6 linked regions of the Homo sapiens genome follow. The protein of the gene in region 5 purifies or fractionates together with the protein of the main gene of each other region. This does not show direct contact. Each region holds a gene or a part of one and is shown on either strand. Other genes may lie near its edges.

The links.
Region 1: the proteins of NRROS (region 5) and HS6ST1 purify together in Homo sapiens (affinity purification with mass spectrometry; one large-scale study listed by BioGRID and IntAct). This does not show direct contact.
Region 2: the proteins of NRROS (region 5) and SLITRK5 purify together in Homo sapiens (affinity purification with mass spectrometry; one large-scale study listed by BioGRID and IntAct). This does not show direct contact.
Region 3: the proteins of NRROS (region 5) and POMT1 purify together in Homo sapiens (affinity purification with mass spectrometry; 2 studies listed by BioGRID and IntAct, with this or other methods). This does not show direct contact.
Region 4: the proteins of NRROS (region 5) and ITPRIP purify together in Homo sapiens (affinity purification with mass spectrometry; 2 studies listed by BioGRID and IntAct, with this or other methods). This does not show direct contact.
Region 6: the proteins of NRROS (region 5) and PDF purify together in Homo sapiens (affinity purification with mass spectrometry; one large-scale study listed by BioGRID and IntAct). This does not show direct contact.

The regions. Positions count from the first base shown.
Region 1 is NC_000002.12:128,269,554-128,274,544, reverse strand, and holds part of HS6ST1 (heparan-sulfate 6-O-sulfotransferase 1), read left to right. Parts: intron 1-4,991. UniProt on the Homo sapiens protein: 6-O-sulfation enzyme which catalyzes the transfer of sulfate from 3'-phosphoadenosine 5'-phosphosulfate (PAPS) to position 6 of the N-sulfoglucosamine residue (GlcNS) of heparan sulfate.
Region 2 is NC_000013.11:87,668,945-87,674,618, reverse strand, and holds the start of SLITRK5 (SLIT and NTRK-like protein 5 precursor), read right to left. Parts: upstream 3,249-5,674; 5' UTR 2,839-3,248; coding exon of another isoform or gene 2,314-2,838; exon of another isoform or gene 2,252-2,313; intron 2,031-2,251; exon of another isoform or gene 1,794-2,030; intron 1,396-1,793; exon of another isoform or gene 1,045-1,395; intron 1-1,044. Other genes in the region: formin-like protein 5, read left to right, coding at 2,314-2,838. UniProt on the Homo sapiens protein: Suppresses neurite outgrowth.
Region 3 is NC_000009.12:131,522,109-131,525,790, reverse strand, and holds the end of POMT1 (protein O-mannosyl-transferase 1), read right to left. Parts: coding exon 3,567-3,682; intron 2,860-3,566; coding exon 2,685-2,859; 3' UTR 1,992-2,684; downstream 1-1,991. Other genes in the region: UCK1 (uridine-cytidine kinase 1), read left to right, coding at 570-751. UniProt on the Homo sapiens protein: Transfers mannosyl residues to the hydroxyl group of serine or threonine residues. Coexpression of both POMT1 and POMT2 is necessary for enzyme activity, expression of either POMT1 or POMT2 alone is insufficient.
Region 4 is NC_000010.11:104,330,941-104,335,931, reverse strand, and holds part of ITPRIP (inositol 1,4,5-trisphosphate receptor-interacting protein precursor), read left to right. Parts: intron 1-2,026; exon of another isoform or gene 2,027-2,305; intron 2,306-2,433; exon of another isoform or gene 2,434-2,594; intron 2,595-4,991. UniProt on the Homo sapiens protein: Enhances Ca(2+)-mediated inhibition of inositol 1,4,5-triphosphate receptor (ITPR) Ca(2+) release.
Region 5 is NC_000003.12:196,652,723-196,657,713, reverse strand, and holds part of NRROS (transforming growth factor beta activator LRRC33 precursor), read right to left. Parts: intron 3,188-4,991; 5' UTR 3,175-3,187; coding exon 3,067-3,174; intron 1-3,066. UniProt on the Homo sapiens protein: Key regulator of transforming growth factor beta-1 (TGFB1) specifically required for microglia function in the nervous system.
Region 6 is NC_000016.10:69,326,760-69,332,051, forward strand, and holds PDF (peptide deformylase, mitochondrial precursor), read right to left. Parts: upstream 3,830-5,292; 5' UTR 3,812-3,829; coding exon 3,238-3,811; intron 2,421-3,237; coding exon 2,263-2,420; 3' UTR 154-2,262; downstream 1-153. Other genes in the region: COG8 (conserved oligomeric Golgi complex subunit 8), read right to left, coding at 4,080-4,336, 4,476-4,616. UniProt on the Homo sapiens protein: Removes the formyl group from the N-terminal Met of newly synthesized proteins.

The sequences.
Region 1 (4,991 bases), on a different chromosome or scaffold from region 5:
TTTTGCTAAATGAGATGCCTACTCCAGGATCTTCCTAAAATAAGATTCACAGAAGGTAAATTTCCTAAGTCTTTGTATGTCTGAACACATCTCTACTGTCCATACTTGATTGATAGTTTGGCTGGGTATGAGATTGGTCATTTTCCTTCTGCCTTTTGAAGACCGTGCTCCAATGGTTTCTAACATACGGCGTTGCAATGGAGAAGCATGCCATTTATGTATTGTTTTTTTTGTCCAGATGCTTCAAGGGTCAACTTTTTAGTCCTCTGTTCATTCCCCACATTCATTTGCTCGGCACTTGGTCAGCCATTTCAGTCTCCGTGAATGATGTACTCCAATTCTGGTTATTTCTGTCATCATCTCCTCTATTTTCTCTCTCCCCTCTTTCTGGAAGCCTTGCTGGCAGGCACTTGGAGCACCTGAATGGATAGACCCTGCTGGATAGTGATAGGCACAAAGCCCCTGCTTTGTGGGGTCCCAGGTGTCAGTGCAGGGAAGACTGCTCTGGGGCACAGACCCTTCAGCAGGGGGTGCGAGGCAGGGATTAGATGAGCCTGGGCTCCTGAGGGCAGGGGCTGGGGACCACCGTGAGTGTGCAGACCATTCCTCAAACCTCTGAGCCATGAGCCGCCCCCTTGGCACCTCCAGAGAGCACATGTCAGAGAGCTGCCTAGATCTGGGGTGGGCCATTTGGGGAGTCCTCTGCACCTCGCCACACCCCGCCCTCTTCCTGCTTCTGTTTGACACCTCCACCCCGCCTTTTGGCAGATGACAGACTGGAGAGTAAACAGCAGATGCGTCTGGCAACGCATGCAATGGAGGAAAGAGGACGGAGCACAGGAGGTGGGACAGGGCAAGGCGCAGCTGGGGCACCAGACCAGAGGATGGCCAGGACGTGCCTGTGGCCAGCAGTGCCTGCAGTGTTTGGCAGAGGGAAGGGGACAAGGCAGAGGGGAGGGGAGGGCTCTGCGTGTTGGGCATGGGACTGGACGCCTCTGGCTCCTAAAGAGTCCCACCGGCTATGGAGGGGCGTGCCAGGTAGTGGCTTCCATACCGTTCAGGCAGGTGTAGGTAGGAACTGGACGGTGGCCAAGGGCAGGTCACCCTGCCTGGATCAGCTGTCACATCTGCAGAAAGGGGCAGGAACACCCACATTTGGCTGCTGGCCTCACAGGCAGCTTCTAGAGTCTGGCTGGCCCTTTGTCTATACCACAGGCCGTGTCTAGGGGACAGAACAAGGGGACCCAGGGCATGGCAATGTTCTGAGCAGAGAAGGTGCACAGGGAGCCGTGGGGACAGCGTAAGCCATTGGGCCTTAGGGCAGGGGCCTCGGTCAGCTCCTAAGGCTCCCCCAGGTGCAGTGTCCGTTGCGCCATTTTATTACAAGACGCAGAGCCGCTGGGCCAGCACTGCTAATATCTTTGAACACACCCGCCTCCCTGGTGTGGTTCCCCAGCAGCTGTCCCTGCAGCGGGAGGCCTTGGTCCAGAAGGGTTATGTGGGACATGGGCGCAGGAAGGACAGGTGAGGCTGACAGGCTTGGTCATTCCAGGGACCATGAGGGCTTTCGCTGGCTCAGGTGCCCCTTTCCCCTGCCGTTGCCCCTGTTGGTGCCTGCTAGACCTCCTGTGCACAGAAGGCCTTGGCAGAGGAGAGAGCCAGGCCTGGGGCAGTAAAGGAGAAAGCTTCCCCTCCAGTCCTCTGAGGGCCCCGGACTTAGATGGCTTTCAAATGAGTGTCTGTCTTCAGCAGCTCACCCTCCCAGCTTTTTCAGAAACCAAAGAGTAAATTGCTCACGGCTTCTCTAAGTGGCTCACACACAAAAAACCCGAGTCATTTCAATGGCTGGACCCAGAAAATCGAGCCCTCTTCTCTCCTCCCTGTCTCTGGCCCCCAACTCTGCCTCAGTTGCCCTGGGGTCTCACTGTCCCCTCAAGACACTGCCCCTGCAGGCGCAGGCAGAGAGGCCTTTGTTCCCCTCAGCTGTGTCCCCTCAGCTGTGTAGAGAGGATGCTGCCGTCGGACACGTGGTAACTGAGCCTGCTGCCACCCCCACCCGTGATGGTCAGTAGGTCGCGTGCCATCTGGGGCTACTAGAGCCGGCCCACTGTGCATACTACATGTGCCTGCTGGGTGCTCTGGGCTCTTCTCGCACTCCTGCACTGGCAACCGCTTATCTTTTTGAGCTGGGTCTTAAAGGTGGAGAGGTCTGACCAAGGGGCGGTCACTCACACTGGCATTCCAGTGAAGGGCATGGCCCATGCAGAGACCAGGGGTGATATACCCGTGTCCTCCTACCTGCAGACCGTGACGGTGCTGGGGAGGGGAGGGGGCACCAGGCCACATCGGGAGGGCAGCAGGTAGACGCTCCAGCCCCTCCACGGCAGAGGCCCTGAGCTTTGCAGGGGTGAGGAGGCTGTCATTCAGAAACGTCGCTGCCAGGGAGAAGGGACTTAGAGAAGGGAGCCTTGTGGCTGTGGCCCATGGCTGCCCTCACCACCAGGCTCCTGCCTTCAGGTGGCCAGGGGCCATCTGAACGCCCAGGGGACCTGGGTATGGGGTTGGTGTAGACCATGTCTTGGCCCTTCCCAAGGTGCCGGCTTCACCTCCATCCCTCTGTGCTCTGGTGCTGACCTGGCATTTGCAGTTATGTGCCCTAGTGGCAGCCGCTCGAGCTTGGCTGCCAAGACCCACGGTGTGGTCAGACCACTGTGTGCGGCTGAGGAATGAGTTCCTCCCAGGAGGGGAAAGCCCTCGGGTCAATCGGGGCCCTCGTGCCCACCCGTCACTGCAGGCCAGGATCGTGGCAGGTGGCAACCCCAGCTTTGAGTGCTGCGTCTTCTGGGGCTGCAGCCGCCCACTGTGAGCAGGAGGGTGAGGGCAGGTAGAGTCTGTCCTGCCATGAAGCTGGAGGCTTTGACAGCAGGGGCGGACAGAACTGAGCAGAAACACTTCACAGCCTGGCCACGAGCTCCCCGCTTTGTGCTCCCTCCCTCGCATTTCCCCGTGTTCTGCACCCCCAGAGCTGAGGAGCCAGGGCCCTTGTCCAGGAACAGGCTGGATCGAGGCCTGGTGCCTGCATGCATTCCCAGGTGGGAGCCAGGCAGGTGACCCGGACCCTCCACCAGCCCAGAAGCAGCCCTTCCACCGAGGGGCCTCACACCACTTCTGCCTGCTCCCTCAGTCATTAGGCCCAGCGCTGGCTAGGTGGCTCCAGACATGACCAGCAGGCTCTAAGGCTCATCAGCGTCTTCTGGAGCCTGCACGATACACACACAGGCACAGGCTACACCATGGGAGACCCCATCTGCAGGGTGCCAAGCCCTTGCATGCTTGGGCCTCTGACGGGATCTGTCCCCGCTGCTAACCAGGCACAGGGCAGCTTGCTCTGCAGGTCTTCCAGTCAGCTAGCACAGACCCTGGCCAGTGTCATGACTCTGTGGCCCTGGGCAAGTCACACACCCTCTCTGGGCCATGGGCAGAGGAGCTCATGATGGAGGCATGCCTTGGGCTTCAGGGGATGGTCCCTGAATGGGTGTGGGGCTGGGGCTGAAGGACCCGCCTGTGGGCTGGGGCGCTGAAAATGGGAGAGGAACTGAGCCATTTGTGTTTCCCAGATGGGGCCTGCTGCACTGTGCACAGCGTGTCCTTGCCCTCAGAGTCACCCTTGGGGCCAGAGTCCTTGTGGCTGTAACTCACAGGGTCATTGGCTGGGGCTAGGAGGGCAAGCTTCTCTGTTGGTGGACACATCACACTGTGGTTTTTTGTGTTCAGAAGAAACCTGCCACACTGGCCTGTCTCCATCCATTTGGTCACGGCCCCACAGGAGTGGGGAGCGGAGGTCCATGCGGCCCTATGCCTCCCCTGGACACAGGGTCAGCTAGGAAGGATATGGATAGCCTCTTCTGAGCAGTCAGGGCCTCGTGAGCCTGAGGCAGGAGACAGAAGCCTGCCCCGGCCGCCTCGGGCCCTTACTCCCTGGCCCTTGGTCATTATTGTTTCTAAAACGTTTGTCTCACCTGCTACCTGAAGAAGGTCCCGCCCTCTGGCCCTTGAGGCCCCGAGTGCCCAGGAGCTGCTGCCATCAGCATGGATGGGTGGTACCAGGCAGGCTGTGGGTGCAGGGTGCTTGGGGAGGGCCAGGTGTGCCTTGGGACGTGTGAAGTGGGAGCCTGGAGCAGGGAAACTGAGGCCTGCTCTCGCCCCTGCTGCCCACAGCTTATCTGCCCCCTGGAGACCAGCCGTGCCTGACCCTGGGGTCGTCAGCTCAGTCCTGCTGGGTCCTTCCTCCACCCCATCTGCTGAGAGCTCCTCCAGGGCAGGGTCTGAGCCTGCCAGGCCACAGAAAACACTGGGCGGATGACAGCTGCCTGTCCCTTCCTCGGCAGTCTGCATGCAGTAGTGCTGGCCTTGCTGCCTGCCCCTGGAGCCATCACTGGCTACCCCGCCTGCTTCAGAGCTGCCACCCCTGGGGCTTTCTGACATGTCCTCATAGGCGGGGGTGGCCTGCAGTGGCACCGCACCACTTGCCAGGCACTGTGCCTCCCTCCCTGCAGGGAGGTGTGCGGTCAGATCAGGCAGTTGCCAGCGGACACCAAGAAGCGCTTTGTGCTCCCCGGGGTCCCTCCATGCCCCCCACCCCCACCCCTGCCCAGGGCAGTGTGAGGGGAGGAGGGGAGCAGTGTGGGTACACTTCCATGTTGCCATCTGGGGAATCCTGGCGGGGGGTCAGGGCCCTTCTGGAGCTGCTCCCCCGGGCAGTGAGGGGCCCTGTGGGCTCCTAGGCTGCCTGCCTGGCCCTGGTTCTACTTGGCCTGAAGCCCACCCACCCCAGCGTGGACAGGAGCCAGGAGGAGGAGCCCTCTAAGAATGACTGCAGCCTCTCCCGGGGCTGAGCCCACACACACACACCGGGCATATCCACAGCCGCCACCACGTTTTACCCACCTGTCCAGTGTCCTGACGCCTCCAGCCCAGCGTCATAGCGAGCC
Region 2 (5,674 bases), on a different chromosome or scaffold from region 5:
GCGCCCTGCGACCACTTCTCATTGATCATGTCAGCGACGCTACCAAACCGCATCTTTAAGCCACTGAAATAGTTCTGCACGATGGATTACAAAGAACTCAGCGAAGGTATCCGCAATCTCCGAATACCTCCCGATGCCTAGAGTTTAAAAAGGACGTTCCTACCGCTTACCGGGAATCAGTACACCAAGGATCAGCACGAAAGCCTCCCTTACCTTGGGCTCCGCGTCTATTTGCAACGGTAATAGCAAGGTTTGCACGGAACTACCACCTCGACAGCATCCCCATCTTTGGAGTTGCTTATTACATTTAATTGTTAACGCTCCCCTCTCTCTTTTTTTTAATCTCAGGGAAAGGACGCCTGGGCTGATTAAGAGGCAAAATAGAAAGGTGGGAGGAAGAACTGTAAGCGACTTAGGTCAGTTGTTTAATATCCGAATTTCATCTCCCACAGGAATCAATATGACCCCCTCCCCCTTTTTTTTCTTGCTCTCTTTTTGTCCCCTTGAAGGCTTCCTTCCACTTCCTACTTCTGATCAACAGCAGCACTCTTAAAGGAAGGACATAAATGGAATGAGCGTGTGTGTGTGTGTGTGTGTGTGTGTGTGTGTGTTTGTGTGTGCGCGCGCGCGCATGCTGCGTTGGTTAATGGGGTGGAGGACATTTGATAGAAATGCTGGACTCTAGGAACCTATGCCTTTTCTCTGGTCAACCTTGCCTTTGCCTCACTACCGAAGTCTAATATCGAATTGCAACTCCAAACTAAAGCCAAGATGTTTCCGAGACAGCGGGTTCAAGCCTGGAGACCTTGCTCCTGATCCCCAAGTCGACTCCAGCCCGCGTTATTAAACGCCCCTGCATTCAAACGCACATGTATCAGTGTGCCTGCGAATCATTCACGTGTGGCCACCCAGACGTGTCGAGATGAATTGGAACCACAGTGCATAAACCTCGCAAGTATCCCCGACCTCCCAACGCAACGGTAAACGTCTCCCGGCTTAAAAGCGGCAAAAACATCCCCACCCCAGTGAAAGCAAAACGTTTACCTTGAAATTTCAGTTCTCCGCTGGATCAAATCCGCACATCCATTCAGCGAGGTTGGGTCCCCTCCCCCTCCCTCCCTGTGCTTCCCCGCCCCCATTCACCTCCCACCCCATCTGAAAGCCCATTGCAAATTCAGTCCAGCCAGTATTAAACTCCAGCGTTTACAACTTTAATTCAGTTCTAGTTAGCAAGGGTCGAAGAGCTTCCTCTCAACCCACTCCCTTCCCCCTCCTCCTTGCTAGCAAAGGAGACCAAAAATTTGAGAAAATAAAGTTGAATGAGCCTGGGGAGGCTGACATTCTGACGGGGAAACGCACCTCCGATGCAAATTCGCGGGTGCGCTGAACATTCTCAGATTCTCAGATTTTTTTTTTTCCTGGAGGGCGGGGGCGGGGGAACTATTCATTTTCTCCCAAAGAATTTAGATACTGGATCACCGCCCTGTACGTCCCTGCAGTAAGCAGCATGGAGCCTCTCGGACTGGAGCCCAGCACCCAGGCCGCACCGGAGGCTCCGGGCACAGCTGCTCAAGCAGCAGCCCAGGCAGAAGCACCCGGAGTTCCAGGACGCGAGGCTCCCCCTCCCCCACCCCGCCCCAAAGAGAAGGAAGGGAAAACGGAGGAAGAAGGGGAGGGAGGAGAGGGAAGGAAAACCACCCCGCCACATAGACACACACACACACACACACACACACACACACACACACACACACACACACACACCTCTTTTGCAAAGTAAACGATAGACTTACCCAGTCTCACATCTCCAAGGCCCAGTCATCATAGCCACCCTTTAAAAACACACACATACACAAAAACCCTCTTTGGGGTATGCACTAGGTTTCTCAAGCCCAGGCAGGGCGAGGAGACTGCGAGCAGCGCAGTCCCAGAGGCTGGAGGAAAGAGGCGCCCGGACGCCTCCAGCCTGGGGCCGCCGCCGCGGTGGCGACCGCGGGTTCCGGGGCTCCCCAAAAGGCTCTCCCCGGTGCTCTCCGCGGTAGTCGGAGCGGGCAGCAGGGTTGGGGGGTGGAGAGCGGGGGGCGTTCTGCAGCGGCGGGATAGGGAGGCGGCGGGAGGGGGCGGCGGAGGTCCGGCTGGAGAGGCGCCTCGCGGTAGGGGCCGGGAGCCGGAGCCGGGCGGGGCGGGGAGGGGGAGCTGCTGGGAGGGGAGGCACGGAGCGGGAGGAGGGGGACGCGGAGAAGACTGCCTGGCCCCGCCGGCCCCGCCAACGTGACGGTCAGCCCCGCCGAGCGCTCGCACCCGCTCACACTCATGATCACTCGCACACTCGCTCCAATACGTGTTAAGGCGCGATCGCGGGGTCCCTGGCAGCCTTCGCTGCACCCTCCCCCCCACAGGGGTACTCACAGTTGCCATCTGCATAGGGGGCAACTTTCTCCGACCCAGCTGTGGCCGCCGCCCCCTCCAGCCTCCTCTGGCTCCTCGCACCCTCCGGCCTGGGTTCGCGCCGGCCGGCCCTCCCCTCCCCCCTCGGCTCTCCTCCTCGCCGTCTTCACCACATTCCCCCCTGGTCAGTGGCGCACGCCGGGGGACGAGCCAGAGGGAGCGGGTCGCGGGGGTGTGCATGCATCTCCCGCCTTCTTCTTGCAGCGCACACTGTACATGGTAGTGAGGGGGCGAGCAAAGGTGGCACCGGCCCCTCGGCTGCTCCAGCGAAGGCGGCGGCTGCAGCTCCTGCGCTGTCCTCCGCCCCCCAGCGCAGCGGCGACCACCGCGCTGGGATCCCGCCGACGCTGTCTCCGCGCCGAGCCCGCCGCCGCCGCGGCCCCTAATTAGTATTTGAGAGGCTCTTGCATCCCTTTGGCAGTTTCATCCTCACGGTGTTTGCAGGGTTTTTTTCTGTATCCCTTCCCCAGATGCGGCGCACAATCGTCATTAGTTGGAACTCTCTATCACCGACATCCTTTGGGGTTTCTGGGGGAAGGGGGGGGCGGGCAGCAACCGCGTCGTTCTATGCCTGTGGCTTGTCCTGGCAGCCCGGTGGCTCTAAAAAAAACTCCGAGAAAGTTGCGTCTTCCTCCCGGGCGCCGAGGAGGTGGCAACGCGGTAAGCAACACCGGGTCTCTGAGACAGCTGCTCCGGAGCGGGTGCAGGGCCCAGTCCAGTGCACTTGTTTATTGTCGCGCCTCTGGTGCGAGCCAAGCTGCAGCAGACATGATGGGCCCGGGGCGAAGCGGGCGCTCGGTGGCCGATAGATGGCAGCCGAGGGCGAAGGCGTCCCTGGGCTAGGGCGGCGCAACCGGGGCCCCCTTGGATGTCACATTCGTAGGAAGAGAGAGAAGTCTTGGACCATGTGTGTAATTCGAGCGTGGGACTGTGCAATTCTCGGATTGGGAAAGGGAGGAGTGGAAATAACCCCGGCAGTGCCAGGCTTGCTGGTGGTCAGGAACAGATGATTCCAGCCCTGTGCTGATCGCCTGCCTTCCTCCTGCCATTCAGAATGCTGCTGTCTCGTGTACTTACTGTTAAGGATCCTGGAAAAGGGAGTGGTTCCTCCTAGCTGCAAACAAGGGCGCTACTTTTCTTTTCTCTTTAATAGAATTACGTTTTATAGGTGTGTCTAGGCAACACAAGGGAATGTGAAAGACTTTCAGAGGGAATGTTTGTGAATACATCTGGTGTGTACTAAAAAGCTGGAAAACCCCTAAGTAAATGCAATATCGATAGAAAGCGAGTTTCTTGAAGAGTCATCTGCTAAACTCCACTAGAGTCATCTCTACAGTAAGTATTCTTGGGTCTTTCCATGAAACCAGACACTTCCATCCCCAAAAAGGGGTCTTTACTTTCATAAGACATGTTTTCAATATTTGTAATATTAGACCTGCCGTTCATCCCGGGTATAAGAGAAAAGTTGATAATAGTAAGTGACCCAGTGCAGGCTGAGTGCACATGTGCCTGTTCCTTTGATAACTATGTAGTTAGTTTCTCCATGTAAATATATTTTACCCACTTTATTTTGCAATTAATTACGTCTTAATTATTATTGATATTGTTTTATTCTTAGTAATATTTGGGATAATACTGTGTTATAATCTGGTTAATCATATGTTTAATATTGATATAGAGTCTGATAATATGTCTATGTTCTGAGATGTATATATATCTCAGGTGATGAACATTGCAGTCTCCTGAGGTACTGCAATCTTTTTTGAACTTTCCCCTGCGTATGTTGTGTGAATATATATATTTTTACTTTATACCATAAAAACTTTATTTGGAAGCAATTTTGTTTAAGTATGGGTTATATTCAAGGGAGAGGAAGGAAAGAAGTAATATGTAATTTCAGACAATAAAAACAAAATCTTGTAATGAACGTTTCATTAAATTTAGAAGCATTTGACCTAGGAATGATAGCCACTAGCTGTAGATACATTGCATCAACAAATATAACTTACACGTCATCCACAAAAGGCTTATTTCTGTATTTTTTATTCAGTCATTAACTTTTAACATTATATAAACATTTCAGAAAATTTATTTTAAGTTTAAAATTACTTTTATATTTTCAAAATGAAATGAAATATTTAAATTTAAAATTATATAGGAATTACAGCCAGAAGCCTTTGGAATATAAATATTGAGTCCTATCAGAAACATAATTTTCAATATCGATTAACTTTGTAGAAGTTCTTAAAGGTCCTAAATTGTCTTAATCGATTATTGATTTTTTCAAAATAGCTGAAATAAAGCTGTTATATTTTATCACTGTTCTAAATCTTTATAATTTCATTCAATAGCAAAGTTTAATTCATGGTTTTGTATTATTTTTATTTTAAATATTTATTGTTCTAATTAAAGGAAATATTATTCAACTAAGAAGTATTAAATATGTTTGGAATTAGTTTAGGTTACAGTTTTGTTAGAAACACTTATGCTAATAATCTAGTTTACCTCTTGTGGTTCAAATAAGTAAATGATGAAAACTTTCTGCCATTAACTCAACATTAAGGATGGTCCCGGAAGCCACCATTACCTTTTGCCACTAGGTGTCTCTATAAGATGCTCTGCAAGAGAATGAAATTTTAGAAAATACTGTGACTTGAACAGTTCAGAACAGAAAAACACAAGAGGGAAAACATCATAGATATAAGGAAAAGCCTCAGTTATTAATCTGTTTCTTTATTTGCATTGAATGTTGACTATTGCTTAGAAAATATATAAGTGAATTACATAAGAGTGATCAAATATGAGCCAAAACTTTTACCCACATGAACAAATGTATCTATGTTTTAGTCTATACTAAGCAACACATGGTCATATGTGTATACATGCTTTCAGACAGCACTCAGATGCATGCACTTAATTACATAGATACATTTGGCCATTGTAAAATTAAATGATTGATCAAATATATCTCCCCAGAATTAAGTCTATTAATATTAAACATTATTTGATGGAGTTGGATGTGAAAGTCACATTTGTCCAAATGTTTGCAAATATTTTTTTTTCATATTAGAATTATCTATTGAGAGGGTATCATCATAAGTGTATATCATGTAGGGAAATATATTTGACATTTATATTGTAAATATAATTGTCATTATCAATTATGGCCATAATTTGATACCTGCAAATTTAAATTTAAATTGAAAACATAAGTAGCATACTTGCC
Region 3 (3,682 bases), on a different chromosome or scaffold from region 5:
ATGCTTAAAAATGTATGTAGCTGGGCGCGGTGCCTCACACTGGTAATCCCAGCACTTTGGGAGGCTGAGGCAGGGGGATCACTGGAGCCCAGGAGTTCAACAGCCTGGGGAACATAGCAAAACCCCATCTCTACAAAAAATAAAATTATTTGGGCATGGTGGCATGTGCCTCTGGTCCCAGCTACTCAGGAGGCTGAGGTGGGAGGATTGCTTGAGCCTGGGAGGTTGAGGCTGCAGTGAGCTGTGATTGGGCCACTGCACTCCAGCCTAGGCAGTAAAGTAAGAACCTGTTTCTTAAAACATATATATATGTATATTCAAATCTGTTAGCAGAAAGTACTTTAAGCAGACTCTAACATAAATTCCTGGAAGACCAAGCTAAGAAGTCTTATTTTGCTGTGTCCTGATGCATGTTTCTGTCTGCTGAGATTTGACTCGATGCCCCTCGCCGCAGGCTGTGCCTCAGGGCAGAGGTTGGGCGCTCACTCCTGGCCGAGTGCTGCGGGGAGGGGCGGTCTCCACGGAGGATGGATGCGGCTAACCCGCTGCTTGTCTGTCTCTTGGCGCAGTTGCCATCAACCTGATCGTGCAGCACATCCAGGACATTCTGAATGGTGACATCTGCAAATGGCACCGAGGAGGGTCCAATGGGCGGAGCTACAAGCGGACCTTTTCTGAGCCAGGGGACCACCCTGGGATGCTGACCTCTGGCAAACGGTCACATTTGGAGTCCAGCAGCAGACCCCACTGAGGGGCTGCCGAGCCTCAGGGCAGGTCTCCCGCCCGGCATGTGTGTTCAGGGACTGAGCCTGGGGACGCCCACCCACACCCACTGCTTCCTCTCGGCGCACCCCAGGGGAGTGTTAGCAGCGAGGCCTTCCTCACTCAGGAGTGGAAACTCAGATGTGTCACTCAGACTCAACTTGCTGGGACACTGACAGGCGTTCCTGAGGTTTTCAGCCACTTAGGCTCGTTGCGGTTTAAAGATCCCTCTAGGTCACTGAGAAATGCCACAGAATGTGCAGGAAGCCTGGGAGGCTTCTGTGAGGAATGTGAGGCACATTATTGGGGAAATTGAGGAGACAGCCTAGACACTGGCTGGCCTGATGTTTTGTTGACAGTGAACCCACAGTGGGAGAGAGTTTTTTCCAGTCTGATCTGGTTCTTACACACTCACACACATAACTCAAAAGTTTTGTGAACAAGTACTTTCCTTTTTTACATGTTACATGTCCTCATGTTTTCTGTTTTCTGTTTCATAACACAAGGCTGGTTGTGGCCTACAAACCTAATTTCATGACCCAGTGGTTTGCAGTCCAGCGTGGCCTACACGGATATGGGGAGCCACTGAGGGATGTTTTCCCCCCTTGCTTGTGCCTTAAAGGCAGAGAAGCGAGGCGGATGCCCTGGAAGCACCCAGCATCACACCCAGGCTTGTGCGGGGCCAGGCTGGGAGCCCATGCAGTAGGGCAGAAGGCAGCGGAGGCCAGGTCTGTCCCGGCTGGAGAACAGCGTCCACGCAGTCCTGCCTGGGGTCAGGCCCTCACTGACCCTCAGGGGAGCCCCCAAGGTGCTGTCTGTCTAGACAGGCTGTCCCACCCCAGGGTGGCTAGTGGCCATATGCAGGGAATGGTGCTTCTGGCTGTGGCACGCACTGGATCACCCAGGTCCCAGCAGACATGGCCGCCCAAAGTCAGCAAGCCTCCTTTGTGCTATGTGGAGCTCACAGCCTCACATGTGAACACCCGTGTCTGGGTTGCCTGGGGTGATCCTCCCTCCTGCGTGGTGGCTGTCTCTGGAAAGCATCCCTTGCCGCTGCCATGGGCAGCCCCAGCCCCCGTCCGTCCAGGCTCACCCACAGTAGTGATGCAGACGTGACGTGGGGGAAGGGGGCTGAGCCCTGTGGCTGGGTTCTGACAACTGTAACGGTTTTGTCGAGCTTAGGCCCCTTTGGAGGGAGAATCAATAAATAACAAACACCAACTACAAACGCCAGTTGGTTCCTTTTTTAATTACATTTAAAAAAGACAAAGGCATGGAGCTGTATGGATGACACACCTTGACCACTGACGAGGAAGATTTCACTCAGCCACGTCTCAGTGGAGTCTCAGAGGGGAGGGTTTCCACACAGCACGGTGCCAAGGGCCAGTCTTGACGCTGTCATAGACAATGACATGCAAGCCCCAGCCCTGGCTCGTGGTTCAGGTGGCCCTCCAACACTGAGCTGTCCCAGGACGCCTGCCGGGCTCGCTGAGGGCAGGGCCGGGACTTGCTCAGGTTGCTGGGTGTTCATGAAGGAGGATCGGGTCTGCCAGATCAAACTCCACCCTGCAGCAGTTAGCAAGGACCAGGCCCTGGTCTGCTGAGGCTCCACTGCTGGCCCTGGGTTCTCGGCTTTTTGTTGTCAATGACTCCTACGCTGGCCTCTGAAATACTCCCTGTGTCTTAGTTCAGGGGTAAAGACACGGAATATCTTTATTGTCGAGAAAAAATTAACTTTGCACAAAAGGAGGTGCTCATCAGAGAGCTTTTCAATGAGACCCCCATGTGTTCCACTAGAGGCCCTGCTCAGCCCAGCCCGTGTCCTCCCAGCGTGGGGCCCACCCTGCTCATTACGTACATTGACCAAGACCCTTCAACCTCATCCCGACCCCAGCACGGGTGTTCTTTGCCACACTCTTGTTCTAGTGTTTTCGGATCAAGATGTCCCAGCTGTCTTTCCAGCGAAGGGCCTTGAGTTCATGTGGCGAGAGTGACTTGTCCCCGTAGGTGAGTGGGCGCAGCGTGTTGGACACGTGGCACGCGGAGGAGTACCAGGCCACCACCAGGGCGCTGAAGATGCTCCTCTGGAGCTGGGACCTGCAGAGGTCAGAGCAGCGTGGGGGAGGGTGGCTGACCACTGCGGCTTCCCTGCCCGGCACCCTCTTGGCATCTGCTGTCCACACGGTCACCCCCCGAGGCCTGGGGTTCTGCCTTCAGGTTTCTGTGTCTTGTCTCCTGCCACCCATGACCATCTCCCACCTGGATGCACTGAGAGGGGCCCCCTGATGACTCCTCAGGCCTCCACAGTGGCTGGGCCACCTCCACACAGATGCCAGAGGACTGGTCCCAAACCCACGGTCCTCCCTTGTGTGGCTTCCTGAAACCGGGAGGCCCTCGCCCTCTGCTCCAACCTCCAAACACACTCTGGTTTAGAAGCTTTCTTGGGTTCTCTCCACCACACCACACAACCCGACCATAACCAGCTGCCGTTTCTGACACCCCAGGCTCCTGGGCCTTGCTCCCTGCTCCCGAATCCTCCAGGCCACCCACATCTCTTCATCCCCTCCCCGTCTCCCCACCCACTCCGCTTTCATCTCTGTCAGCCGCGACTTCTCCCTCTGGGTTCCTGCAGTGCCTCATCTGGGCATCTCTTCTGAACCTCACCCATTCCCCGGAGGGACCCGGAGGATGTCAGTGTAACGTGAAATGGGTGAGGTTCGCTGCACCCCATGTGTTTGCTGCGCATGGGCTTCCCAGCAGAGGGCTGCTGCCCGGTCCAGCCACTGTCTCCGCAGCCCCCGTACCTGCACAGGTGGTCGCTGATGTGCTGCAGGACCACAGGGAGCAGAAGGATTTGGAAGGTGAGTGCGGGCAGGTAGTGGTAGAGGAAGAGTGTCTTCTCCATCAGGAAGAACGGGAG
Region 4 (4,991 bases), on a different chromosome or scaffold from region 5:
CCCAAAAGTACTTAGCCTGTATTAACTCATTTAATCCTCACAGTAGCCGTATGAGTTAGGTATTGTTAACTCCATTTTACAGATGAGGAAACTGAGGCACAGGGATGTTAAGTGTTCCAGAGCCTGGAAGGTGAGTCTTAATCACTGGGCATTCATAGACCAAGAAGCAACTTAAGCTTAAAAAGCTAGTTTAATTGGGAACCCTCGTGGGAAAGGGGGAAGAACAGTTGCCTTTTTCTTTCTCTGTCAAAGGAGGAAATACCCATTCTCAGTCCAGGTGGAGGAAGGAGGGGAAATTCATCTGGCAGGAGGCAGAGGAGGAAAGAAAAGAGGCAAGCCGGGCCTTGATGGCTGATGGGGAGCCTGGCCCAAGAATCAAGTGACTTTCCTTAATCTCTGGGCGGTGTGAGGTGGCAGATCCAGTTTGGGGCCTGGCATGAGGGTGATGAGTAAGTGCCCCCAGGTGTGGCTCAGAGGGAAACGGCGGTGGCTGCACGCAGGGTCCTGACCTAGGCAGAGAGCGAGTGGAAGGAGGTGAGACAACTGTCCTGACCTTCCAAACCCCTAATCCCCATCTGTGGTCTCTTGCTTCCTTGTTGAAGTCCCATTCACCCACAAATGCCCTTCTCAAGTTCGTCCAAGAACCCTTCCTGAAACTCCATTTCACAGTTCCATATACATGATCTCTTAGTTTCCACACCGTACAGCTGAGCGCTTAATTAGCTGGAACCGAGCATTTCACTATGTACTGTCGATAGGCACTTTAAACAAAATAGGCTTCTCATCAGTGAGGAAGTCAAGATGCCTCCTGGGAGGGGCCAGCTGGTGCCCAGCAGATTGCTCAGAGGGTGGTGTTTACCTGGATCACGTCACCTGTCCCAGGGCATGGCTCTTAGCTGTGCCCGCTCAGAAACCCAATTTCCATAATTTTCAGAGTGGTTTGGACTCAAGCTACTGATTCACCCTGAGAAAGCTCCCAGAAGAGGGTGTACGAATCAGAATGCTGGTTTATTAATTTGCAAGGAGACTTCGCAAACATCACACAGACTGAATGTCGTCTCTTCCCTGCGTCCTAGACAAGCCATATGGGAAACCAAAGACCAGAAGGTGGACTGCGCTTATCAAAGCTGGAGTCAGAACCAGGCAGGAGCAGCATGGGGTGAGGGTGGGGGACAGTGATGTCCAATAGTGCAGGGCTTTGTCTACCTCTGCGGCCCTCTCACCAGCAGAAAGATAGCTGCCAGGTAGACTGGATACTCAGGTCAGCCTGGCTATGGGCATCTCCTTGGCCAGTGCCTCAAGGGCAGTATTTCCCTGAGAAATCCTGGTAGCATTTCTCCCTTTCCTCTCTCATAATGTAGTAATTTTTTATTTTATTTACCTATTTGTTTAGTGCTTTGCAAGCATTAGCTCCCAGAGACATAGATTTGCATTTGCGTAAATTCGATAACTACTGTACAATCTCAGAGTTGTAGGGCCAGGCCATGAGAGTAAGTGCTATATGCAAATCAAGAGGATGATCCGGTAACCTGGATGGATCAATAGAAAGCCAAGCATAGAGCAAAGACACGTGGTCCCCAATCAGCATGGAGGCTGGGCCAAGGCTGGCCAGTTGTTGCATCCCCTGCGTAGGCCAGGGGGTGAAGCATTCCTAAAGCAGTGCCTGCTTCGGCTGCCTCAGGCAGCCTGCCCTGCTCAGCTGGCCTCTTTAGATTTAAAGGGCTCTTTCTGGTCTCTGTCCAGGCCCTTCATGGCTCATCTTTAATGAGCCACATCTCCAGGTGCCCAGAGCCAAGGCGGTGTGACTGCACGGGCTTTGAAGTGGGGCAGACTTGAGTTGAGTCCTGGCTCCACCACTCGGTGGTTGGGCGTTCTCAGTAGTTGGGCAGGTGCCTTGATTCTTCAAGTCTCGGTAACATCATCAGTAAAATGGGGATGACCCTCAGGGCTGTGGGGAGGGTTGACCCAGACGATGCACAGAAGGCTCTGAGCACCGTGCCTGGCGCAGACTGGAAACCTGGCCAGTGTGCGCTCTTCAGGACAGCAGAGGTCGGTTGGAGGTCTGCATTCTCTGCCGACTTGGGCCCCAACTTCCCCATCAGGTCACTGCTCCCTCCTCTGAGGTCTGGACAAAGGACAAGGCTGTAGGGACCTAGACTGTCCTAGACGGGGAGGACATCTATCCTCAGTGGTCTTTCCAGCAGTTTGTTTGGAGCTGCTCATCCTGATCTTTTGGCTGACTCTGGCAGAGGGAAAGTCAGATTTGAGGCCTGAGCTCTAACAGGCATCCAGAGAGGAAGGAAGGGTAAGGAGCTCTTCTGGGCGAGGAAAGGGGTCATTTGGGAGTGCCCCAGAGGCCTGTAGACCCCTCCTCAACAGTTTAGGACCTGTGACGTTTCCCCACAGAGAGCACATCCCCCCTCTATCTGTTAGGCCCACCCCGTGACATCAGTGAAACGGAAGCACCCTGCAGGTGACATCACTGTTGCTCAGGGCAACGCCTCCACCCTAAGGCGGACGGGGAGGTGAAAAATCGGCCTCAAGTGTGAGACGCATGTTGAAGGGAAGGGACATAGAAGGTGTAACGTTCACAGGTGTGTTTCTCAGAGGCTGGGGAGAGGATGGGCCCAGTTAGCGGCAGGGTGAATAGAAGAGGGAGGTGCTGCAGTCTCAGATCTGGGCTGTGTCAGTTGGTGGTGGGTCTTTAGGCCTTGGGTCAGAGAGCGCAGTGCTGACAGCTGCAGTCTCCTTCAGTTCTCTGAACGGGACTCCTTAGGGGTCCTCCTGCAGCCTGGATCTGTAAGGAGGGTTAGGGGAAGGGCAGGCTGGAGCAGTGATGGGGCCATCAGAAAAGTGACTTTCCATTCTTCAGCCTCCCCACAAAAGAGAGTGAGAAATAGGATGCTCACATCCTTATTACGGGGGCTTCATTGATCGAGCAGCCATTGTGTATCTGTTATGCATGGCCTGTGCCAGGGATTCAGCGGCCTCGTGGAGCGTTATGATGAAATGCACATGGAGAGGAAGAGTGTATGGAATCCACTGCCCCAAGAGGCAGGACCAACTGGAGATAGGAATCCCGTCTCACAGTTCACCTCACTCAACTTAGCATTCCCTGTGGAATTCTAGATGGGTTAAACTAAATTCATGGAATGCTTTCAGTTGGGTGTGCTTGAGATACACTTGCTAATTTGGGAGTGGAGTCAGAGGGGGCAGCCATGGATGTCCATCTTGTCCCTGGGATGGCACTGTTTACAAGGCTGAGGTCACTCAGCAGTTCTGATGCTCTTAACTTGGTGACCTGTGTTTCCGCCACATCTTATCAGGTGATGCCTGCTGCTTCTCCTAAGCAAGGGCTGCCAAATGTCAGCACAGGAGACGAAAGAGGCAGGAAAGGGAGGACTCCCTGCCCTGAAGAAAGATGAAAAACTAGATGATATAGTAGGTGTCTCTGTAGAGGTTTCAGGAATCGCCTTGTCCTTCCACTTGAAGGCACCTGATTAAAGTTTTTGTTTTGTGCAACTAGGCATAACTTCAGGTGCTTTTCTGATGTCCAGCATTTCGGTGGCTAAAGTCATTGCCCTAATTCTTGTATGCACCTAGCTTTTTCAGGTTTATAAATAAAAATTAGAGTATCATTAATCTGCAGAATCCACCGTTATGGATATGACATTGTTCATATAAGTAGAATGGCCTTATTAAAAAAAAATAGTGGCTTCATTTACTGAGCAAAGCCCCATTCTAGGGGTTTACACATATTTATTTCTCCTCCTCACAATGGCCCTTCAAGGTGGGTGTTATCCTAGTTTTACAGGTGAAAGAACAGACTCAGAGGGACTTGCCCCAAACGGACAACAACAGAGAAGAGATTCGAATTTAGATTTGCTCTCTCCCAGGGCCTTGGACTCTTTCTGCCACCTCAGGCGTCTGTCTGGACACTGTAGCCCAGAACACATACAGATGGCATAAAGAATCCCACAAAGTTTTAAGTGTCAATACTGAGAAAACAGCAAGCAGACCACCAACTCCAGGCCTGAGACTTCTGGTCCCTTCCTGCTGTCTCACTCTGATATTAGCAGACCTAGTGAGCTTTGGAGACTCCTTCTGCCAAGAGATTCTGTGAGTGTGGCCTGAGCTATCTGAGGGTGAAAGGAAGGAAAGGCTTTCCCTTCCAGCACTGTTTGCTTTTCTGTTTAATAGGCACAGTAACAACCAGTTCCTGATAATATTCAGAGCACTTTGCAGTCCTCTGCTGGAAGTCCCTAGGAAAAATACAAAGCCCCGCAATTATCAAATGACTCACTTCCAGGTGCATAACACAGTGGGACACTCACTGCCTGGGAAGAGGGGCTCAGCTTGGAAGCAACCCTGGGCTGCTACTGCTTTCTCTCCCTTCTAGGTCATTTCCCTGAAGCTGATGCAGGAGTCCCCCCAACTCTCGCCCCCTCCTCCTGTATCAAAGCAGCAGGGAAGGTGTTGTCATTATTTTGGCCCTGCCCGCTAGTGCAAAACCATGTGCTCATAACATACTGTTCTCATGGGAGCCGGCTTCAATAGCCTCTTAGCAGCAGCCGGGGGACCCGCCTGAAGTTTACGAACGCGTCCTTTGTTTGCTGAGACTTTGTTCCAAAGTTCCCAAGGAGGCAGGGGTGCAGCATGCCTGGGCTGGAGGGTAGGAGAGCAGGGGCTGCCTGGGTCCTACCCCTGTGTGCTGCCCCAAAATGTCCCTAATGTACCCATGCCGCTTCCTGACATTTCACCCCAACACATGCCTACCTGCCAGTGTCAAGAGAGCCCTCACTCCCTTTTTTGCAGAGAAGGCTTTCCATTCCTTTTATCTCAAATAGCCCAGGCCACACTCACAGAATCTTGGTAGAAGGAGTCTCATAAGTTCATTAGGTTTTACTCCCTGCTTCATGCCCACATTTCATCTAGATTGTCACCTACCCTTCCCTAAACAGTCCGGGTGAGGAAAGTCCATAGGTACATGT
Region 5 (4,991 bases):
TTTTTTGAGACAGAGTCTCACTCTTGTCGTCCAGGCTGGAGTGCAATGGCGCCATCTCTGCTTGCTGCAACCTCTGCCTGCCGGGTTCAAGCGATTCTGCTGCCTTAGCCTCCCACGTAGCTGGGATTACAGACTCACACCACCACACCGGGCTAATTTTGTATTTTTAGTAGAGGCAGAGTTTTGCCATGTTGGCCACCCTGACCTCGGGTGATCCACCTGCCTTGGCCTCCCCAAGTGCTGGGATTACAGGTGTGAGCCACCGCGCCCGGCCAGGTGTGTGTCTTTATGTGAGTGGGTGTTGCGCTCCTCCCTGCGTGTGGACTCACTGGAGAATGTTGTGGTCAGGGGCTTTCTTCACGCTATGGGGTGCTGTTCCACCACAGCTGCTGCAGTCGTGGGTCACACCTCTGCAATTCCCTGTGGCCCCGCTGAAGTGATGTAGAAGGACCATATGGCCATCCCAGAAAAGCTTACCATGTCCACTTTCTTTTTCTTTTTTTTTTTTTTGATACGGAGTCTTGCTCTGTCGCCCAGGCTGGAGTGCAGTGGCGCGATCTCAGCTCACTGCAACCTCGGCCTCCCTGGTTCAAGCGATTCGCCTGCCTCAGCCTCCTGAGTAGCTGAGATCACAGGTGCCCGTCACCATGCCTGGCTAATTTTTGTATTTTTAGTAGAGACGGGCTTTCACCATGTTGGTCAGGCTGGTCTCAAACTCCTGACCTCAGGTGATCTGCCTGCTTCGGCCTCCCAAAGTGCTGAGATTACAGGCGGGAGCCACCGCACCTGGCCAACGTCCACTTTCTAATAAGGTCAAATGGATAATGTGATGAGGGCCAGTGGAGGGCACCCAGACTCTCCAATTCTCAGTCCTCAACTCGGAAGAGCCACAGGAAACCCACTCTTTGGGCTTCCTGGCAGCCAATTCTCTACTCCTGCCCACTGGGCCAGAAAGTGTCAAGCAGAGGGCCTTGCCTGAACTCTGAAAGGCTGTTCATTTATCTCTCCTCTTCCTGTGCCTGGTAACCCCTGAATAACTACTGTGTAGTTAATCCTTTATTGCCTCTGTAAGAGAATGCTGGAGGTCAAACATAGCAGAGATTAATAATAATATGAGTGATAACGGATAAAACGCGTAGCACTGACTACCTACCAGGCACTGTCCTGAGTGCTTTACATGTATTAACCCATTTAATCATCAGTCAACACAGCATGATGTTATTGGTAGATATTATTATTACGTATATATTCTACAGATGGAGAAACTATGACCTAGAGTGACCCCAATGTCACCAGCTAAGGGTGGGGCTGGGTTTAAACCAGGCCAGTCTAGCTTGTAACCTCTATGTCATATTGGAATAGACTCTAGCACAGTGGTTATAGGTTCCTACTAAAAGAGGTTAAAAACCATGACAGCTATGCTTTAAGAATACATACTTGAATGTAAGTGTTAGCCCTGACATCCAATTTGTCTTCCCAACGCCTAGTATATAATATGGCTCAAGAAATGTTTATTAAATATGTGTTTCATTTTTTTTTTCTTTTTTGAGATGGAGTATCACTCTGTCACCCAGGCTGGAGTGCAGTGGCACGATGTCAGCTCACTGCAACCTCTGCCTCCCAGGTTCAAGCAATCTTCCTCAGCCTCCCGAGTAGCTGGGACTACAAGCATGTGCCACCATGCCTGGGTAATTTTTGTATTTTTAGTAGAGACGGGTTTTTACTATGTTGGCCAGGCTGGTCTCGACCTCTTGACCTTGTGATCTGCCCGCCTCGGCCTCCCAAAGTGCTGGGATGACAGGCGTGAGCCATGCACCTGGCCTAAATATGTGTTTCTTGAGCAGACTTTTGATATCATTGTTATATAGATGAAGGGGAAAATTACTGGAAATTTCTCAGTTTGGACCCAAGTCTATTTTCACATCTAGGCTGAAAGCCCTAGAGGAGGCTTGGGTATCCACGCTCCGGGTCTTCTTAGCCTGAGCGTGGTCCGGGCTGCCGCTCTGCAGAGTGGCATGGCAGCAAGTCCTCCCCGCAGCTGTGTAAGCCTTAGCGGTCAACTCGTCCACAAACTCCGAGGCAGGCTTCTCCAGCTCTCAAGCACCTCACCCGGAGATTCTCATACCATCGGTGCAGCTCAGTCATCCAGTTTTTTGTTTTGTTTTGTTTTTTTCTTTTTTTGAGAGAGTCTCACTCTGTCGCCCAGGATGGAGTGCAGGGGTGTGATCTCGGCTCACTGCAACCTCCGTCTCCCGGGTTCAAGCGATTCTCCTCCTTCAGCTTCCCAAGTAGCTGGAATTACAGGCATGCACCACCACGCCCAGCTAATTTTTGTATTTTTAGTAGAGACGGGGTTTCACCATGTTGGCCAGGCTAGTCTCGAACTCCTGACCTCAGGTGATCCGCCGGACTTGGCCTCCCTAAGTACTGGGATGACAGGCGTGAGCCACCGCGCCTGGCTTTTTTTTTTTTTTTTTTAAAGACAAGGTCTGGCCCCATCACCTAGGTTGGAGTGCAGGGGCATGATCTCAGCTCACTGCAACCTCCACTTCCTGGGCTCAAGCCACCCTCACATCTCAGCCTCCCAAGTAGCTGGGACTATAGGTGTGTGCCACCGCACCTGACTGATTCTTGTATTTTGTAGAGATGTGGTTTCATCATGTTGCCCAGGCTAGTCTCCAACTCCTGGGCTCAAGTGATCTGCCTGCCTCGGCCTCCTAAAGTGCTGGGATTACAGGCCTGAGCCACTGCACCCGGCCTGAATCATCCAGATTTTTAACAAGTTGTTCTTGTTCCGGGAGGATGCCCTAGGCTGGTCTCGGATGCCTCCTATCCTCAGCAGGCGTGAGAACGGCGGGGCAGGGACTGCCTGGCTCTTCCCAGGAAGCATCTTAAAATCCTGTGGTTAAAGGGCAGCTGCACATGCCCCTGTGCTAGGCAGGCACAGAGTGATGCAGGCTCCTTCATTCTCTGCCCTTCCTGATGGACAATCTGTCAGCTTTCCAAATGGACCAAGCCTTGTCAGGACAGGAGCAGCCGACAGATCAGGGTTCAAGGGAAACTCACCAACTTGCAGACTCCTTGGGAGGCTGCTGTGGCTGTTCCGCTTCTGTTCCTCCAGCCCACGGTCAGGAAGTGAAAACCCAGGCAGAGCCAAAGAGGCAGCAACTCCATCTCAAGGGCAGCCCTGTGGACAGAGAGCAGGGAAGAGGTAAGTCAGAGAAGGACATCCCAGAGGGCTGTTTGTATTATCGGCAGAAGGAGCCAGTTCCAATTCTATGTGGTCTTGGAGCTCTGTGGAGCTCCATAGAGGTGCAGCCCACAGGATACTCAGATACCTCCATTTAGCCAAGACTTCCGGCCTTTCACTGAAACTGTTGACAAGAACTCAATTTCATTTTGCCTCTACCACTTGATGGACGGGTGGCTGAACACTAAACTTCAGCGAGTCCAGCACAGAAGGGAGAAGCAAAAAGCTTGAGTAACCAGGCCTCCAGTCACCTGGAGTTTCCCATATTTTGTAATTCTGCTGAAGTTTTCCTGCCTCCAGCTCCAATCGGTCTGATGCATCCCCTGAGCTCAGTAAGTACTTGCTGAGTGAATGAATGAACAACTGGAGAGTGGACGGAGACGGAAACACGGATGGGGGCCTCTGTCCCAGAGTTACTCCTCAGCTGCTGATGTGGGGCTGTTACAAAAGCGTTGATCTCTTTGGTTCACTCATTTGACTATGACCCTTTGAAAAAAGAGGTTTGATATTTTGCTTGGACGGGGGAAACACGGAGGGAAAATGAAGAAGCAATCTTTGGGTAGAATAAAGGTGGTTAACGAAACGTGGTTGCCAGCCCGCTTGCCTGGCCAGTGCACAGAGAACAGCAATAATGAGAAGGCTTGAAGGTATACACGCACCAGCAGAGATTCAGAACTAAGGGGAGCCATAAGGGAAATGCAATATACTCATCACATTTGCCAGGTGAACAAAGGCCCAGAGATACTACTCGAGGTTGTGGATGAACTTAGTGGCAGGGCTAAGAGCAGCCCCGCCTCGCTCCCCGAGCTCCGATGAGTGAGCAGGGCAGTTTCTCCCAGCAGCGAGGCTGCACTCACTGCTGCCCTGCTGGGGACCTGACGCCCAGTGCATGCCCCCAGCTCTGCATTCTGCAGACCCAGAGGCAAGAGCTGGCCCCAGCATTCCATCTGCCCATTCCTTGACACCTACCGGAGGCCCAGTGTCTGCCCTCCCATCTTCTCCTGGGCCAGCGGCACCAGCTCACCCCACCTGCTCGCTCCAGCCACTCAGGGGCCTCCTCTTTCCTTTCTTCAAATGCATTTAGGGATCTTGAAAGCTCATTTTACCTTCTTGATCAGATTTGAATGCTCACCAGTGCAAACAGACTAATTGAAGAGCTCAATGAAACCGGGTAAGCCAGCTTTCACTTCAGGCCAGGCCAACTCCCCTTACTACAGAGAGAACCTCCAATGCAGAATTTACCAGAACTTGCCAGACACTGGGAATCCCCTTCCAGACCCATTTCTGCCTCTGCACCCACACAGGAGTCATTGCCTTGTGGCCGGCACAGGGAAGAGAGGGCAGAAGCAGAGGTGTACGGGTTCCTGACCTCAGGATCCCCCCAGCACCCTTCCCCGCCCCTGAAACCTGGGATCACCACCACTGCCCGCCATGAAATAAGGCTGCATAGTTGCAGATTTAGTAAATTACAAGGCATCATTTCAATGCTAGATACATCCTTATACTAACAAATTGTTTATCTGACATTCAAACTTCACTGGGCATCCTGAATTTTACTGAGGGGAGATGGGGAGGTAAGAACCCTCCCTTCCTCCCTGGCCACCTCTTGTCAGGTGTGGGGTGGTACCTGCTGCTGTGACTCCAGTCTCTCTGGAAGAGCCAGCCCTGCGTATCGAAGAACTGAATCTAGACGTGTAAGGGGCAAGAGTGCAGGTCCCTCAGCGAAAAGGCAACCTTCAGA
Region 6 (5,292 bases), on a different chromosome or scaffold from region 5:
CTCTGCCTGGGGATTCTGTTATAAACCTTCTGCCTACATTGGCTTTCACTGTGGAAGTTGATTTCTAAAACTCTGATGAGCTCACAACGTTGACATGTATATGCGTTTTTTGTGAGTGCTTCCTGCTCAAAGTGGGAGAGATTTTACTGGAAATGCAATAAAGTTTGCATTTTATTGCTACCGATGCCCACCACAAAAGCGTTAACCTCAGAAAGCTATAAGAAGCATCAAAAGATTGCCATAGCCCCCTGTAAGAGCTTCTGAACATTGTCCAAATGAAAGGAGGCTCAGCTGAATTCTAATTTTCCTAAAGACCCATGTTTTTAGCATCTATGAGCTTTCTACAAATCTCCCCATTGGCTGCATCTCTGACCTTGCACCAGTATCTGGTTGGGATTCCCTTTTTTTTTTTTTTTTTTTTTTTTTGAGACAGAGCCTTGGTCTGTCGCCCAGGCTGGAGTACAGTGGCGAGATCTCAGCCCACTGCAACCTCTGCCTCCCAGGTTTGAGCGATTCTCCCGCCTCAGCCTCCCAAGTAGCTGTGATTACAGGCGCCTACCAGCACACCCAGCTAATTTTCATATTTTTAGTAGAAACAGTGTTTCGCCATGTTGGCCAGGCTGGTCTTGAACTCCTGACCTCAGGTGATCTGCCTGCCTTGACCTCCCAAAGTGCTGGGATTACAGGCATGAGCCACCAAGCCTGGCCGGGATTCCTTTTCAAAGTCTGGCTGCACCTAGAGCCAGTTTGCTTCTGCTTGGCCTCATGGGGCCTCAGAGAAAGCCACAAAGGAGGATGGGTCTTTCCTGGGTTCATTTAACTGCCATTTATAACACTTTTTCCTCTAAACAGCTTAATGGACTTCCTACTACTTGTATAGTTTGATTTTCAGGACTCTGTTCAGCAAGAATACCTACTTTACAAAACTCAGCATAAAAATGAGGTGAAACAGTTTAACTAAAACTGGAGTTTGGCTGGGTAGTGTGGCTCACAACTGATCCCAGCACTTTGGGAGGCCGAGGCAGGAGGATTGCCTGAGACCAGGAATTTGAGGCCAGCCTGGGCAACATAGTAAGACCCCCGTCTCTATCTTAAAAAAAAAATAAAAGAATAAAACAAGTTCCTTCACCTCTTGACAAGACAAAGCTGACACTTTTTTTTTTTGAGACAGAGAAAAAAAGAAAACTCTACAGCCAGAATCATACTTTTGAGTCTCGCTCTGTCGCCCAGGCTGGATGGAGTGCAGTGGCGTGATCTCAGCTCACTGTAACCTCCGCCTCCTGGGTTCAAGTAATTCTCTGCCTTGGCTTCACGAGTAGCTGGGATTACAGGTGCTCGCCACCACGCCCGGCTAATTTTTGTATCTTTAGTAGAGACAGGGTTTCACCATCTTGGCCAGGCTGGTCTTGAGCTCCTGACCTCGTGATCCACCCGCCCCGCCCTCCCAAAGTGCTGGGATTACAGGCGTGAACCACTGCACCTGGCCACTTTCTTAAACCTACACATTGGTTGCTGTGATATTAATTCTATTTTTACAAAATAAGTGTATAACCAGGAAGTACTAATCCTGCTTTCTATGCCCAATTGTTAACAGGAAAGGGCTCAGTGCACTTCTCAATTGTCACCCCTGCCCCCAGCCCTGATCCACGGCCTCTACCCCAAGAATGAGCCAAGAACCAGCTGCTCTAGGGATCTCAGCAGCAAAATCCTGCCCAAGGCTGTTAAAATGTGTGGGCACTCATTTACACTCGTGCTGTCATGAAACACATCCTTGAACAGGGACTATTCTCTTTCATTTCCATAAGCAAACTGGCGTCTAAGGCCACAAGCCCTCCGTAAAAATAAGAACTCGGCACAAATGGCCAGTCACATGCTTACCTGCATTTTTAAAGACAGCTTTCAGGTATTTGGGGACTACATTATTACCAAACCTTGGCTTTGGGAGATTATACAGGTCCGAGGAACTCGTGTCTACTGCAGACGAATGCAATTACCCCACCTTCCTCCATACAGAATTGTTAGGAAATGTCCACTCCTTTGGGGGTGATTTTTCTCCTCAAGTTGTAGCCAACATTTTGTCCGTAACTGATTTCAGGGCAAACATTTCTGACATCTTCCTCCAGCTCAGTCTGCCATGCCTTGGCAATCCAGTTTCCTGTCATATGCGAGCCATCCAAGTTGATGCCAAGTAAGATTTGCCCAGCTCAAAGTGAAAGTGTTTGCGTCTTGGTATCCGGAATCCTCAGCCCCAGTAGCAAAGCTTTAGTCATTCACCTTCATCCAATAGACGTTTGTGAACGTCCTGCTGTCCATTTTGTCAATAAACAGGCAGCCCTGCAGGTGGTCCATCTCGTGCTGGATGATGCGGGCTGCCCACCCGCTCGCCTGCCACACCACCTGTTCTCCATTGGGGTCCAGCCCTGCAAAGGAAGTTACAGCCCTGGTGAGTGGGAACAGCTGAACTGCATCATCCTCAACCTCCCTACCCCTGCCCCCGGTCCTGGCTGTTCCCATTGACAAGAGGCAACAGCAGATGGCAAATGTAGACAGCAGCTCCTCTTCTAACTGGAAAACGTCCCTCATCTCGGTCCATTACCAAGCGTTCAACCTGGTTCCCAACTCTGGTAATTAGGTTATCGAGCTCACTGTAGAGCTGAGATGAGAAATCATCTTTCTACGGTGCGACCCTTCCGAACACTCCTCCCACTTCTGAGGTACCTGTGGGCTCCCAACTCCTAACAGAGGTTCTGCAGCTTGAGACCCCACTTGTTTTTCTGACCATCTTGAACCGACGGGCTTGCTGTGCAGGAACAATCACCCCGACCCCAGCAGAGCCCGCATTCCGCGAGGCATCCTGTGGTACCACGGGGGAATGGCCTAGCCCCCTGGGCTGGGTCAGGCTGGCGGGGGCTAACCCCCACTTCTCCAACTCCACCGTGGCGGATCTAACTGGGGCCGAAGAGCGTGTTTGCCTCAGAGAGCAAGGGAGCAGAAAGCAGACGCCAGGCTGTCAGGTAACAGCGGAACTAGGGGACCTCTCCTCGCCCCTGCGTCCTATCTGAGCGGGCTCTACCCCACAGGAGCTTCTATCCGTCCTGAGGCCTCTCCGCTCCCGCATCCCACTTCGCTCCTGCGGGAGGTCCGGCGTATGAACCGCGACCACTTCTGCGCTCTCGCGGAGTCGGGCAGAAGAGACGCGCGCGCTGCTCCAGCAGCCCCGGTCCCCGCCGCCCGCACCTGAGATCTGCACCGCCTGGAAGCGGGGCACGCAGGCCAGGAAGCCGGCGACGCTCTCGCAGCCCTCGGGAAAGGTGACCAGGCGGCTGTCAAGCACTCGCAGGCTGGGGTTCACGAACACGCGCAGGGGGAAGGGCTCCATTTGGCGGAGCGCGCGCTGGCGGGGCGGGCACTCCCGACACAGCGCCTCGGGGAGCTCCAGCGCCAGCACCTGCCGCGGCACCCCCAGCTGCGGCGCGCTTAGGCCCACGCAGCGCCGCCGCCGCATCACCTGGACCAGCCGTTGCGTCAGCCGCTGCAGCTCGGGCCCGCCTAGCTGCGCCCGCTCCACCGGGGCCGCCACGCCGCGCAGCACCGGGTCCCCGACTTGGCACACGTGCGAGAACGGCGGTTCGGGAGGACCCAGCACCAGACGCCTCAGGTGGCGCCAATAGGAGCGCCGCAGCGCCGGGCCCTCGACGCCGTCCGGGGCGGCCGTGGAGCTGCAAGCCCGGACACCGACGGCTGCCGCCCCGCCCCACGGCACGGCCGCCCACAGTGGCCAAAGACTCAGCGCGCCCCACAGCCGGGCCATGGCGGCCCCCTTAACAGTGACCCGGCCCGCCCCTTCCGGCCGCAGCGCGGGGCACGCCGGGAAGCGCCGTCGGCCAGCACACAGCGAAGCCGCGACTGGATCCCCGCCTTCCTGCTTAGACTGGCAGTGAGCACCGCCCCCTTCCGCTCTCCTCCCGGGAGCGCCTTCCCGCCTCCCGAACCCGCCCCGGACCTTCCAGGGCGAGGCAGTCCTGGCCACCCCGCGCCGGGAACCTCACGCACCGCGTTCTGGAGGCAGGGGACGCCGGCTAGGGCCCCACGCTGGGCGGTTCGGCCTGCGTCTCCGCTCGCCCTCCCTCCGGGCAGGCTGGGCCCGCGGGCTCCAGGCGTGGCTCCTCGGCGGGAGGCTCTGGTGCTGGAGCTGTGAGCTCGGGCCCCAGCGCCTGGTCATCCAGGGTGAAAAGCGTCTCTCTCTTTGGCAGGATAAAGGCGAGGGGCTCCTGAATGGCGCCGATGTTCACATGCCCTAGGTTACCGTACTTGGAGAGCTGAGTGGGAGGAATGCCTAACCCAGACGTGGGGAAAGCAAAATGGAAAACAGTTACTAATAAAACTCAATATAGAAATTTAAGGGAGGCCGGGCGCGGTGGCTCACGCCTGTAATCCCAGCACTTTGGGAGGCCGGGGAGGGGGGGGCGGATCACCTGAGGTCAGGAATTCGAGACCAGCCTGACCCACACGGAGAAATCCCATCTCTCTTAAAAATACAACATTAGCCGGGCTTGGTGGCGCAGGCCTGTAATCCCAGCTACTTGGGAAGGCTAAGGCAGGAGAATCGCTTGAACCTAGGAGGTGGAGATTGCAGTTAGCCGAGATCGCGCCATTGCACTCCAGCCTGGGCCACAAGAGCAAAACTCCGTCTCAAAAAAAAAAAAAAAAAAAAAAAAGGAAATTTAAGGGAAAAAAAACGAGCCATTACTATTTTTTTTTTTGAGACAGTCTCGCTCTGTCGCCCAGGCTGGAGTGCAGTGGCGTGATTGCTGCTCACTGCAACCTCTGCCTCCCAGGTTCAAACAGTTCTCATGCCTCAGCCTCCGTGGTAGCTGGGATTACAGGCGCCCGCCACCATGCCAGGCTAATTTTTGTATTTTTAGTAGAGACGGAGTTACTATGTTGGCCAGGCTGGTCTCAAACTCCCAACCTCAGGTGATCCATCCGCCTCGGCCTCCCAAAGTGCTGGGATTACAGGCATGAGCCACTGCGCCCAGCCATCAATTACTATGTTTTAATACAGCAAAAACCACCTTTGTTACAGGGAATGGGAAGCTATACTGTGAAGCAGAACGTAACGGAACAGCAGTGTAGGGTGCCTGCAGCAGGAACCCAGACCTCAGGCAGCACCAGGGAAAAAGCAGAGGGCAGCCAGGCTTTGCACGTGTGATGCACTGACCCATTGCCCTTTGGGAAGCTGTGCCTCAACCAAGCCCCTCTCCTACCACAAAGGGACAAGGACGTGAAAGT